Homo sapiens: one gene and its partners. The protein of the gene in region 3 interacts with the protein of the main gene of each other region in a pairwise test. Each region holds a gene or a part of one and is shown on either strand. Other genes may lie near its edges.

Region 1 (3,745 bases), on a different chromosome or scaffold from region 3:
CCTGGGGGTGGGTCCTCCCCCTCTAAGCCCTAGAGAGCCCTCCAGCCTCGTTCTCCACATGCCCGACCTGGAGTGGGTGGGAAGAGGGAGAGGGTGGTGTGCGAGGAGGCAGCAGGTCACAAAGGGGTTACAAGCTCAGAGGGAAGGGGGATGGGAACTGGAAGAAAGTGTCACCCAGACCAGGGGTAGAAGAACTTGACTTTGGGGAGACTGAGAAAGACCACATGTAAGAGAGAGAGACATGGAAAATGAGGTAGAAACAGACAGAAACAAAGAAAGGCACAAAAATTAAGAGGCAGAGGAAAGGTGAAAATAGCCAGGAGACAGAAACTGCAGGATGAGAGAAATGAATAGAGAGAGACAGAGAGACTAAGACAGCAAAAGGCAGGAAGGAAAAACAGAAAATGAGAAGGTGTGAGAGAGAGAGAGATGGAGAGGTGGAGAACAGAGAGACTGAAATGAGAAAGAGACCTCTCGGAGAGAGACCGAGAGGAAGAGGCTGGCAGAGGGAGAGGGTCAGAGACCAAAGACAGAGACAAAAAGAGAAATAGGGTTTTGCAAAGACTGACTGACAGAAACAGATTTCGAGGGGAGAGAGATCAAGACCAAGTGAGGGTTTGAAGGAGACTTAGGGGAGGTGGAGGAAGAGAAGGAGAGTCTTAGATCCAGGGTGAGGGGCTTCTAGCAGGAAGAGGGAAGACGCCAAGACCGCGCTTGGGAGGTCAGTGGTGCGTCTCTACCCCCCCTGCTCCCCCACTCCAACTCCCAGAGTCTCAAGGCCTCACGTCACACCCCCGTCCCGTCCCGTCGACAAGGGGAACCCCGGCCTGGGAGAGGGCGCCTCCGGGGATCCGTTGCCTAGTCCAGGTACTGCCCAGCTACCGGGCGTCGAGGATTGCGAAGCGTCGGGGCAGGCTGGCACGGTGCCCACTTTTCCCAAAACGCCAGCCTTCCAAGCCCAGAAGCTCGCCCGGCCCAGGCCGGGAGCGGCCCACGTCGGACGGCCGGACCGCCCTGCAGGACCCAGCCCGGCCGCCCGCCCCCGCCGCCGGCGGTGAGGGAGGTGAGCGGCGCCGACCTGCGGGACGAGCATCACTCCGACCCAGCCGGGGGTGAGGCGGGTCAGGATGCTCCGGTCGCAGGAGGAAAAGGAGGAGCTGGACCAAAAGCCCGAAGAGAAGAAAAGGGGAAGGCCGCGCACGGAGCGCGGTAAAGGCCGGCGGAGCTAGACGCCCCGAGGTCGGAGTGAAGCGCCGGGACCGAGCCCCGTCTCCCAGGGAGTCCGGGGCGCACGGCACCGAGGAGAGCGCGGGAGCCAACCTGGGCGCATCATGCGCAGGGCCCGGGACGCTGGGCCGGTCTACACCGCCGCCTGGGTCACGTGGCCCGGACGGGCCGGCGGCTGCCCCGGCCGGGGGGCGGGGGTCGCGCCGGGGTTGCGCTGGACGACGGAGAGCGGCGGGCCCGCAGCGGCCTGGAGCCTCCCAACCCGCGCGCCGCGCTGGCCCCCGAGCGTAGGAGCCGCCCCCTGCCCCCCCGCGCCGGCCCCGCGCCCGGCCGCCCGCCCCCTATATAGCGCGCCCCAGCAGGGCCCGCGCCAGGCCGCCAGCCTCGGAGTGGGCGCGGGACAGTGCGCGGCGCCCCGCAGCCAGGCCCCCGCCCCCGCCGCATCCACCTCCTCCGCCGCCTGCGACCCAACGGGCGCCCCCCGCCGCGGCAGCTGCCGCCGGGCCCCCGCGGCCACCATGAAGAAGGAGGTGTGCTCCGTGGCCTTCCTCAAGGCCGTGTTCGCAGAGTTCTTGGCCACCCTCATCTTCGTCTTCTTTGGCCTGGGCTCGGCCCTCAAGTGGCCGTCGGCGCTGCCTACCATCCTGCAGATCGCGCTGGCGTTTGGCCTGGCCATAGGCACGCTGGCCCAGGCCCTGGGACCCGTGAGCGGCGGCCACATCAACCCCGCCATCACCCTGGCCCTCTTGGTGGGCAACCAGATCTCGCTGCTCCGGGCTTTCTTCTACGTGGCGGCCCAGCTGGTGGGCGCCATTGCCGGGGCTGGCATCCTCTACGGTGTGGCACCGCTCAATGCCCGGGGCAATCTGGCCGTCAACGCGGTGAGTGCCCTGGGGGGGGGGTGGGAGCCTCGACCCTGGGGTGGGCTCAGGACCAGGCCTCTTACCCCACCTGGAAAAAAGGGGTGCCGCAGAGTGGGCCAGCCCACACCCTTCACCAGGAAGGCAAGAGCCTCCCAAGGCCAGGAAGGCAACTCTCCAGGCTGATATGTGCTCCCTTCCTGCCCACCTCCTCTCCCCCTCCCCTCATGCTGGCCCACCCTGGTCTCTCTCCAATGCCTGCTACCCCTCCTCTCCTGCCAGAAACTTCTGCCTCCTCCTGTCTCACCTTTGAGCTCCACCTTCCTCCTGGGCCCCTCACCTCTCCCATCACCTCAGTGGAGCGGTTGAGTAGAACCACCAGAGAAAAGCGGGCTGTCATCACGGCTTTGGGTGACCCTGGCCTGTCTGTGCTTCATTGTTCTCAGCGCCTCCATGGGGATGGTTGTGTCTGCCACAGCAGGTGTCAAGGGGCTCACATTTAGAAACCGTAGATAGGAACCCCCTAATGTGGGGCCAGTGCAGAGCAGTTTCTGTTGAGTATTGGTTCCCTCTTTCCCCAACCTGTGCTCCTCCCCTCAACCCCGCACCCCTGCCTCCCTCCCACCTCCTGCAGCCCCAGAGTCAGCCCCCAACCCCATGCAAACTGGGTTCATTAATCAAACACAGAGGAGGATTTGCTTGGCCATTGTCAAGCTGTGAGTCAGCCGCACTGGAGAGACGGGTTTAAGGCTGGCACTGGCATGGGGCCAGGCACGGGCAGGAGGCCGGGATGGGGTGTGAGGCAGGCAAACCGGGCAGCTGCCCACAGGATGGAGGGTAAATGCCAGCTTATGGGGGCTGGGGGTTGGGCAGAGCCATTGATAGGCCCGTGTCCAGGAAAAGCTACCCTGACGCTCTGCCCTTTGGCCACAGGCCTGAGCTTCAAGCCTGTGCAAACTATGAAATGTACAGTGTCTTTAACAAATGGCTTCGCTGGGGCGATGTCCACAGGACTTGGCTTCCAGGTGCCAAGGTGCTCTAAGTGTCCCTGGAGGCCAAAAGCCCTACTCCCCGAGCCCCTGGCTATACAGCCAGAAGGTGGCCGGGGTCCTAACCCGCTATCCCCTTGCAGCTCAACAACAACACAACGCAGGGCCAGGCCATGGTGGTGGAGCTGATTCTGACCTTCCAGCTGGCACTCTGCATCTTCGCCTCCACTGACTCCCGCCGCACCAGCCCTGTGGGCTCCCCAGCCCTGTCCATTGGCCTGTCTGTCACCCTGGGCCACCTTGTCGGAGTGAGCAGTACCGACATTGGGCTGGGGTGAGGGTGGGGCAGGCACTCAAGGCAAATAATGGAGCCCTGGAGCGGAGCCCACTTCAGATGGATGAGTCCAGCAGAGTTTAAGGCCTGGATTTAGGGCTCCTGGACTCTGGCCCTACTGGGCCCCAGAATTGATCCCCCCAAAACCTCTGGGCTGAGGAAAGATGGGAGTAAGTAGGAGGTGGGATGGGACAGGAATCAAACCCAACCTCAGAGCAGAGAAGAGAGGAGGGCGTAGTTAAGGGTCCATGGTTAACCAAGCAGCTGGGATCCTTGGAGGGAGAGGTTGCCAGCCTGAGTTTGAGACCTGGCTGAGCCCCTGGACTGCAGTGTAA
Region 2 (3,745 bases), on a different chromosome or scaffold from region 3:
CGCGTGCCCCCGCCCTGTGTTTTATAAAAAGAAAGATTCTCGGACGTTGCCTCTGCTGTCTGCCTGGGGGACCGGGCGCCTCTGGGGTCCTCCCCTCGGGACACGCGGGCGAGCCTGGGGGCGAGGGGGGGGGGGCCCTTCCCTGGGTCCGCCCCGCCCGCCCCAGGCTCTCGGGTCCAGACTCCCGCCCGGACTGCGGCCTTCGGGCCAGGACACCCTCCAGGCGCGGGCACGGCCGCCTCCCGCCCCCCAGGCCCGGGTCCGACGGGGCGGGGACTCCTGTGTCTGCCCCCGGGCCCCCCTCGCTCTTCCGTCCTGGGGGCGGCCGCGGGGACTCGCGCTCTGATCCAAGGGGCCCGACACTCCCCAGGGCTGTGGGGTCCCGTCCCAGCAGGGAGTTAGTTGGGGGGCGTCCCAGGCAGGGTCTGGGGGCCGGGCGCACGCAGGCGGGGTGACGAGCTGGGGGGGCGGGGGGCGGTGTCGGAGCAAATACGGCGGCCAGGCCCAGCCTCTCGCGCTTTCCAAGAACCGCCCGCGGCCGCCGCCAGCTGCTTGGCGCTGACCCCGTTGGCCGGGCTGCCGTCACCCTGGGCCCGACGCCGGCGCGGAAAACGGGGAGGGACGAGACAGACACAGGCCGGTCTGGCTCGGAATCTCCTGCTCCTCTGCCCAATCCCCCACCCCCGCCCCGCGGGACGCCGGTGCCCGGTCTCGGTCCCAGCCCAGAGCCGCTCGCGCCTGGACGCCGGCCGCCCCGTCGAACCTTTGGGTCTCCGAGCTCCCCGCCCCCGCCCCCAATCAGGACCGGTCCAGACCTCCAGGCCCGGCGCTTAGCTCCGTTTCCCGTCCCTCCCGTCTCCCTCTCCCCTTTGCTGGGGCCTAGCCGGGGATTTAGGAGCCACACACCCTCCACCTCACGCGCTACCCTCCACGGGGCTTCCCGCAGCCAGGGCCCGCCCCTTCCCGGCTCCCCGGGAGACCCTGGCAAGTTCCCTCCCTCCGCCCCGCAACCTGGCACCCTCCGCGGCCCTTGCCTACCCACGCACCCCCTCCCCGCCTCCCCCTCCACCGCCCCATACTCACTGCCACGTCCCCATCCGGCCATCCCCTCCCAGCTCTCGGGGACACTGTCAGGCGAGCGACGCGTCTCCTGCGGCCCAGCTCAGCTGCCTGGGCCAGGATGGAGACTCCGCTCATGTGGGGCTCAGGGGTTTTTTGAGGATTCCATTTGGGAAAAAAGCCACCAGATCACTCACTGCCCAGCAGTGGGGGCTTGGGGACCCCCACTGCTACCCTTTCCTAAGCGGGAGCCCTGGCGCTGCCCTTCCCGGGCTGCCTGGGGCCCTCTTCGCTCCCCCCTCCGAGGACCCCGCCCAGCAGGCCATGCCCAGGCCTCTGCCCCTGGCCCACGGGACGCGGGTCCCCATGCCCCCGGCTGGAGACAGCAGGCAGCTCGGCCAACGGACGGGCCAGCTGGTTCCCTTCAGGGGCAGCCTTGCCCCCTCTCCCGCCCCGTCTCCCTCCCCCCCACCACACCGGGCTGTAACCCGAGCCGCCGAGCCACTGCCTCCCCTCCGGATCCTCCCCGGAGGCTCTGCGGCCCGGGCCCCCGCGCCTTGCTGCCCCATGCAGCCCTGAGCCCCACAGCAAGTCTGCCATGGGCCGCGGGGCCCGTGTCCCCTCGGAGGCCCCGGGGGCAGGCGTCGAGCGCCGCTGGCTTGGAGCCGCGCTGGTCGCCCTGTGCCTCCTCCCCGCGCTGGTGCTGCTGGCCCGGCTGGGGGCCCCGGCGGTGCCGGCCTGGAGCGCAGCGCAGGTGAGCGGCGGGGGGGAGGCCAGGTGCCGGGTTGGGGGGGTCCTCACGTCTGTGGGTCTGGTCTATCGGGGGGCCCGCAGGACGTGTGCGGGGTGTGCGGGGTGTTTGAGGGTCCGGATGTGCGTCCCGAGGTCGGAGGGTTGGACGCCCCTGTGTCCAGTTGTTGGGAGGGGTGGGAGGCCTCGCCCTGCTGTTCAGCCCCTTCCCCTCCACTGGGCCGCGTTCCCAGGGACGTGCAACAGGGCGCTCAGGTTAGGAGACCCGAAACCACAGGCAGACAGGACCCGCCACGCCCGCTCCCAGCCCTGGGCACCCCCACCCCCGTTTCCTTCCAGTCCATTTTCCGCGGCAGTTTTTGGTCCTGGGGACCGTCACCGATGCCTCCCACGCACGCTTTCTTCCCTGAAGGGAGACGTCGCTGCGCTGGGCCTCTCGGCGGTCCCCCCCACCCGGGTCCCGGGCCCACTGGCCCCCCGCAGACGCCGCTACACGCTGACTCCAGCCAGGCTGCGCTGGGACCACTTCAACCTCACCTACAGGTGCGCCCTGGCTGGGCCCCGGGGGAGGGGGCGCGGCCGGCGCCCGCTGAGCTCACTCTCCCTGCAGGATCCTCTCCTTCCCGCGGAACCTGCTGAGCCCGCGGGAGACGCGGCGGGCCCTAGCTGCCGCCTTCCGCATGTGGAGCGACGTGTCCCCCTTCAGCTTCCGCGAGGTGGCCCCCGAGCAGCCCAGCGACCTCCGGATAGGTGGGCGCCCGCCCCCGCCCCGGCCCGGCCCTGCGCGCCCGGCCTCTCAGCCCCGTGCTCCCCCCAGGCTTCTACCCGATCAACCACACGGACTGCCTGGTCTCCGCGCTGCACCACTGCTTCGACGGCCCCACGGGGGAGCTGGCCCACGCCTTCTTCCCCCCGCACGGCGGCATCCACTTCGACGACAGCGAGTACTGGGTCCTGGGCCCCACGCGCTACAGCTGGAAGAAAGGTGACCGTCCAGGCTGGCCTCCTGGAGGCCTCTCCTCTGCAGCACAGTGGGCTGCCGCGGTCGGGCTTTGGGGCAGACGGCAGGAGGGACCTTCCGGGGTGGTGGCTGCCACTGGAGTCTAGCAGGCAAGGAGGGGAGCCCGTGGGAGCCCCCATCCCGGCAGCCCTGAACTCCCTTTCCCATCCCCCTGCGCCTCTGGAGCGGGAGCTGGAGCTGCATTCCTGGGGGCCGAGCTCACCGCCTGGGCCCAGAACATTCTTATCTTTCCGTGGCTGCGGCCGAGGGCGGCTCCGCGGCTGCGCTCCAGCAGATACACCGGGCCTCGGGGAGCTGGCCCACGGGCGGCGGGGCTGGGCCCGGGGCTCCCAGGCGCTGACCCCCGGGGCCCGCAGGCGTGTGGCTCACGGACCTGGTGCACGTGGCGGCCCACGAGATCGGCCACGCGCTGGGCCTGATGCACTCACAACACGGCCGGGCGCTCATGCACCTGAACGCCACGCTGCGCGGCTGGAAGGCGTTGTCCCAGGACGAGCTGTGGGGGCTGCACCGGCTCTACGGTGAGTCCCTTTGTCGGGCGGGAGGGCGGGGACCGGGCGGTCCTGAGCCAGGCCGTGCTCCCCACGCTCCCGATAGGATGCCTCGACAGGCTGTTCGTGTGCGCGTCCTGGGCGCGGAGGGGCTTCTGCGACGCTCGCCGGCGGCTCATGAAGAGGCTCTGCCCCAGCAGCTGCGACTTCTGCTACGGTGATGCCCACGGGGCCGGGACAGGGCTGCGTGGGAGCTGGGCCTTGGCCATGGTCGGGGCTGAGGGGGCACTGACGGGGCTCTTTCCCCCACCCGGAGCAGAATTCCCCTTCCCCACGGTGGCCACCACCCCACCGCCCCCCAGGACCAAAACCAGGCTGGTGCCCGAGGGCAGGAACGTGACCTTCCGCTGCGGCCAGAAGATCC
Region 3 (3,334 bases):
CTTTGGGTACTTCTGAATTTGGCAGGAGACCAATACAGATGATTAACTACAACATAGCCTGATAAGAGCTGTAGAGTATCTACATGCACAGTGTTTTTGAATTCCAGAAGAGGGAACGATGATTTTTCAGTCAAAAGGCCATGAGAGGAGAGAGAAAATATAGGGGAAATGATCTGTAAATCAGGCCTTGAACGAGGAGGAGTTTCAAAGTAAAACAAAGAAGAAAAGGCATCTCAGGAGAAAGAAACACAATGAACATGGACAAAGAAGTGTGAAAGTGCAGGCAAGTGGTCCAGAGTGGATCAGATACTATAACCTCCGGTGGGAGGGCTTTCATATTGTGCAGTGTGTAAACTGAACAATTATCCATAGCAATCCTGGTGTAAACTGAACAATTATCATAGCAATCCTGGTTGAAGGGAGTGGTTAGGGCCCACAAAAGAAAGAAGCGAGAAGTACAAGGGCCTTAAGTGGGAAATGGCAAAAAGGAATATGAAATGAAAAAGACTGTTATTAAACCCTAAGCATTATTCAGTAAGCCAGGGCTGGCATTTATTTCAATATGAAATTTCAAAATTATATCAGCCATTTGTACTCAGTGAGTGACAGCAGCACGTGTCTTTATTTATAATGGCAGGGCCAAATATAAACACAGTTTTAAGTTAGTGTATTTCGCATAACATTCCTTAATGTCTTGAGAACATGCAAATGAATTGGACAAAAATCACTGAATCATCTATAGGTTTTTTTTATTAGAAAAGAAATTAAGTGTTGTCACTAGAGATTGAAGGAAATTAACAATCTTACAATTCTAGAACAGGCAAACTTCATGATAAGGGATTCTTAAGTTTTCAAAGTGTAGGAGCTCTTTCACAGATACACTCTTGGTGTAGGGGGCTGTAAGTTTTATCAGATGTTTTACATTTCATGCTTTAATCTTTGCTGGTAGTCTAAATAAAATAAATACACAGTGTTCAGGATTATCTGGATAGCCATCTTAAATAACAGAGTGTTCCGCATGACCACAGCCTCTGCACTTGTGCCTCTGATCCATATGACACCAAGACCAACTATGCTTTTCATATGATTTCTCCAATTGGGTCCTGTGACCTTTCACAGAATTGTTGAACATTTCCTATGAGATCTGTGGAGGACAAGGTGGAGAACACTGGTTCAGAGCAGTGATTTTCAAGGTGGGATGGGATGGGGTGGAGTTGAGTGGAGAGATGCATGTAGTTAGAAAGAACACATTCAAAATACCCACTGATTTCATAATACAAACTCCATAAAGTCAAGCAGCAAAATGATTTTAGCTAATGGGCAGTAGCAGATAACCAACTGTGGATTCATCATTGTGGAGAAGGAGTCTGGATAAACATAGTTGAAAAACACTGGCTTAGAGGTAGAGACATGCCGACACATGGAGAACAGTAAGAAACGCATGCCAAAGAGGACAATTGAGGGTCAGTGAGCGAATCCTGGGCCAGAACTTGTCACAGTCTTCTGAAAACCAAAGAGCACATCCAGAAGAAAACCAAGATGGCCCGTCAACCTTCTTGGCCCTGTGATTAAGAGCAAGTTGGTCCACTTTTAAATACTGAGCCAAAAGAGGAAAAAAGCTGTTTGTGCCCCCAAATTCATCCACCAGAAGTGCTGTCATCATTTGCAATGCCATCCAGCTCTTGAGGAGGGACGTCAGCATGGGGCCTGTTCTGCCAGGAAAGAAAGAAGGGATCTCCTTGTAAGGCAAAATCCTTCCTTTCTCTCATTACCAGAACACTTACACCTGCCATTTAAACACACTCTGTTGCAGATGGCCTTGAGATGCAGCTGCCAGTAAAATACTGACAGCATAGAACACTGAAGGAAAAGGCCAAATGCAAATAAGGAGACTTTCTGAATATGGGGGACTCTAATGCCCACACCAAAATAGAAGCAGTTGGAGAAATAACATTTCCCATCTTCTCTCATTCTTAATCTAAGCCTAAATTGCTAAACATGTCCCAGAATAGGAAACCATTAATTGGGTTTGAGTGCTTTTAGTACCAGTGGTAAGGCCAGGAAGTGAACTCAGACAGACATAGGGTGCACCTGCTGTGATGATATCGTAGAATTCTGATTAGAAGATTTATAGCATTGACTATTTCATTTCAGAGAAATCAGTGGTATTTTTTCAGACCTTTTTCCCCCTTCTGTTGCTATGCTGAGTAACCATCACAAATAATGTATACTCATTGCCCAAGAAATGAGTTATTAATTAGCAGGCAATAGATACCCCTCCAAGAACATTTTGGTTAAAGAACCATTCATTTCTCCCTCAACTAAAGCAGCATTTACATCTCTCTGGGTACAGGTCTCTGAATTGGCCTGCTTGGGAGCTAGCTAGCGCTAGCTGTGCTGGGGAACTGGGGGAGGGAGGAGCTCAGACTCCAAAACCATCACGGTTCCCTTCTGAAATGTTCATCGCCCTGTGGTTTTCCACAGAGCCAAAGATCTCCTTTAGGTTACTGATTTTAGAAAACTTTGTTTTGGCTTTTGGGAAGCCAATTAAATAGAGTTGATTTGCCAAGTGAACACAGGTAAAGCCAAAATGACCTGTGTTTCACATTGCGTTTTGAATAAATCCAAATTGTTTACCATGGCCTGGGTGCTCTGGCCCCTGCCCACCTTTCTCGCTATTCTTCCTTTTCACTGCACTTCATTCACTCTATTCCTGCTTTCTTTCTGTTCCACGAACATCCCTTACCTGTTGCCACCTCAGAGCCTTTGCACTTGCTATTCCCTCTGCCTGAAAAGCTCTTCTGCTTCATCTCTGCATAGCAGTCCCCTTGTTAACCAGGTCTCAGCTCAACCCTTCCTGAGAAAGGCCCTCCCTTACCATGTTAGCTCAATTTTCTCCCCACCCCATGACATATTCTGTCACATTATTCTATTCTATTTCAGGATTTGCTTGTTTTTGATCTGTCTACCTCTCTAAAATATAAGTTCCAGGTTATCATTTTATGCATCATTATATTCTCATGTGTCTGGCACATGCTTAATAAATATTTCTTAAATGAAGCTTGAGTGAAAGGATTTCTCTCATTGACACGATCTCTTTGTAAAGTGTGAAATTCATAAGTGATTGACATCACCATTCCTCAACTCACCCCAAATCATTTCTTCCCCCAACCAGAATGCTGTCATACAGTATAACAAACCACGACAGAAGAATTCCACGGTCTCCCATGTTCCTGGCCCAGCACCTCACCTGCCACTCACCTGTGGTTACTGCAGAGCTCCAATCTGCTTTAGCCGCGTCAGCAGTTCCCCACTCTGTTGCAAAGAGACTAGA

The links.
Region 1: the proteins of GLRX (region 3) and AQP5 interact in a two-hybrid assay, tested with the Homo sapiens proteins (one large-scale study listed by BioGRID and IntAct).
Region 2: the proteins of GLRX (region 3) and MMP23B interact in a two-hybrid assay, tested with the Homo sapiens proteins (one large-scale study listed by BioGRID and IntAct).

The regions. Positions count from the first base shown.
Region 1 is NC_000012.12:49,960,273-49,964,017, forward strand, and holds the start of AQP5 (aquaporin-5), read left to right. Parts: upstream 1-1,599; 5' UTR 1,600-1,745; coding exon 1,746-2,108; intron 2,109-2,394; exon of another isoform or gene 2,395-2,652; intron 2,653-3,219; coding exon 3,220-3,384; intron 3,385-3,745. UniProt on the Homo sapiens protein: Aquaporins form homotetrameric transmembrane channels, with each monomer independently mediating water transport across the plasma membrane along its osmotic gradient. Plays an important role in fluid secretion in salivary glands.
Region 2 is NC_000001.11:1,630,562-1,634,306, forward strand, and holds the start of MMP23B (matrix metalloproteinase-23 precursor), read left to right. Parts: upstream 1-1,611; 5' UTR 1,612-1,657; coding exon 1,658-1,813; intron 1,814-2,221; coding exon 2,222-2,352; intron 2,353-2,419; coding exon 2,420-2,559; intron 2,560-2,626; coding exon 2,627-2,794; intron 2,795-3,186; coding exon 3,187-3,351; intron 3,352-3,427; coding exon 3,428-3,538; intron 3,539-3,640; coding exon 3,641-3,745. UniProt on the Homo sapiens protein: Protease. May regulate the surface expression of some potassium channels by retaining them in the endoplasmic reticulum.
Region 3 is NC_000005.10:95,813,246-95,816,579, forward strand, and holds the end of GLRX (glutaredoxin-1), read right to left. Parts: coding exon 3,268-3,334; 3' UTR 3,262-3,267; exon of another isoform or gene 3,251-3,261; intron 1,713-3,250; exon of another isoform or gene 1,145-1,712; 3' UTR 604-1,144; downstream 1-603. UniProt on the Homo sapiens protein: Has a glutathione-disulfide oxidoreductase activity in the presence of NADPH and glutathione reductase. Reduces low molecular weight disulfides and proteins.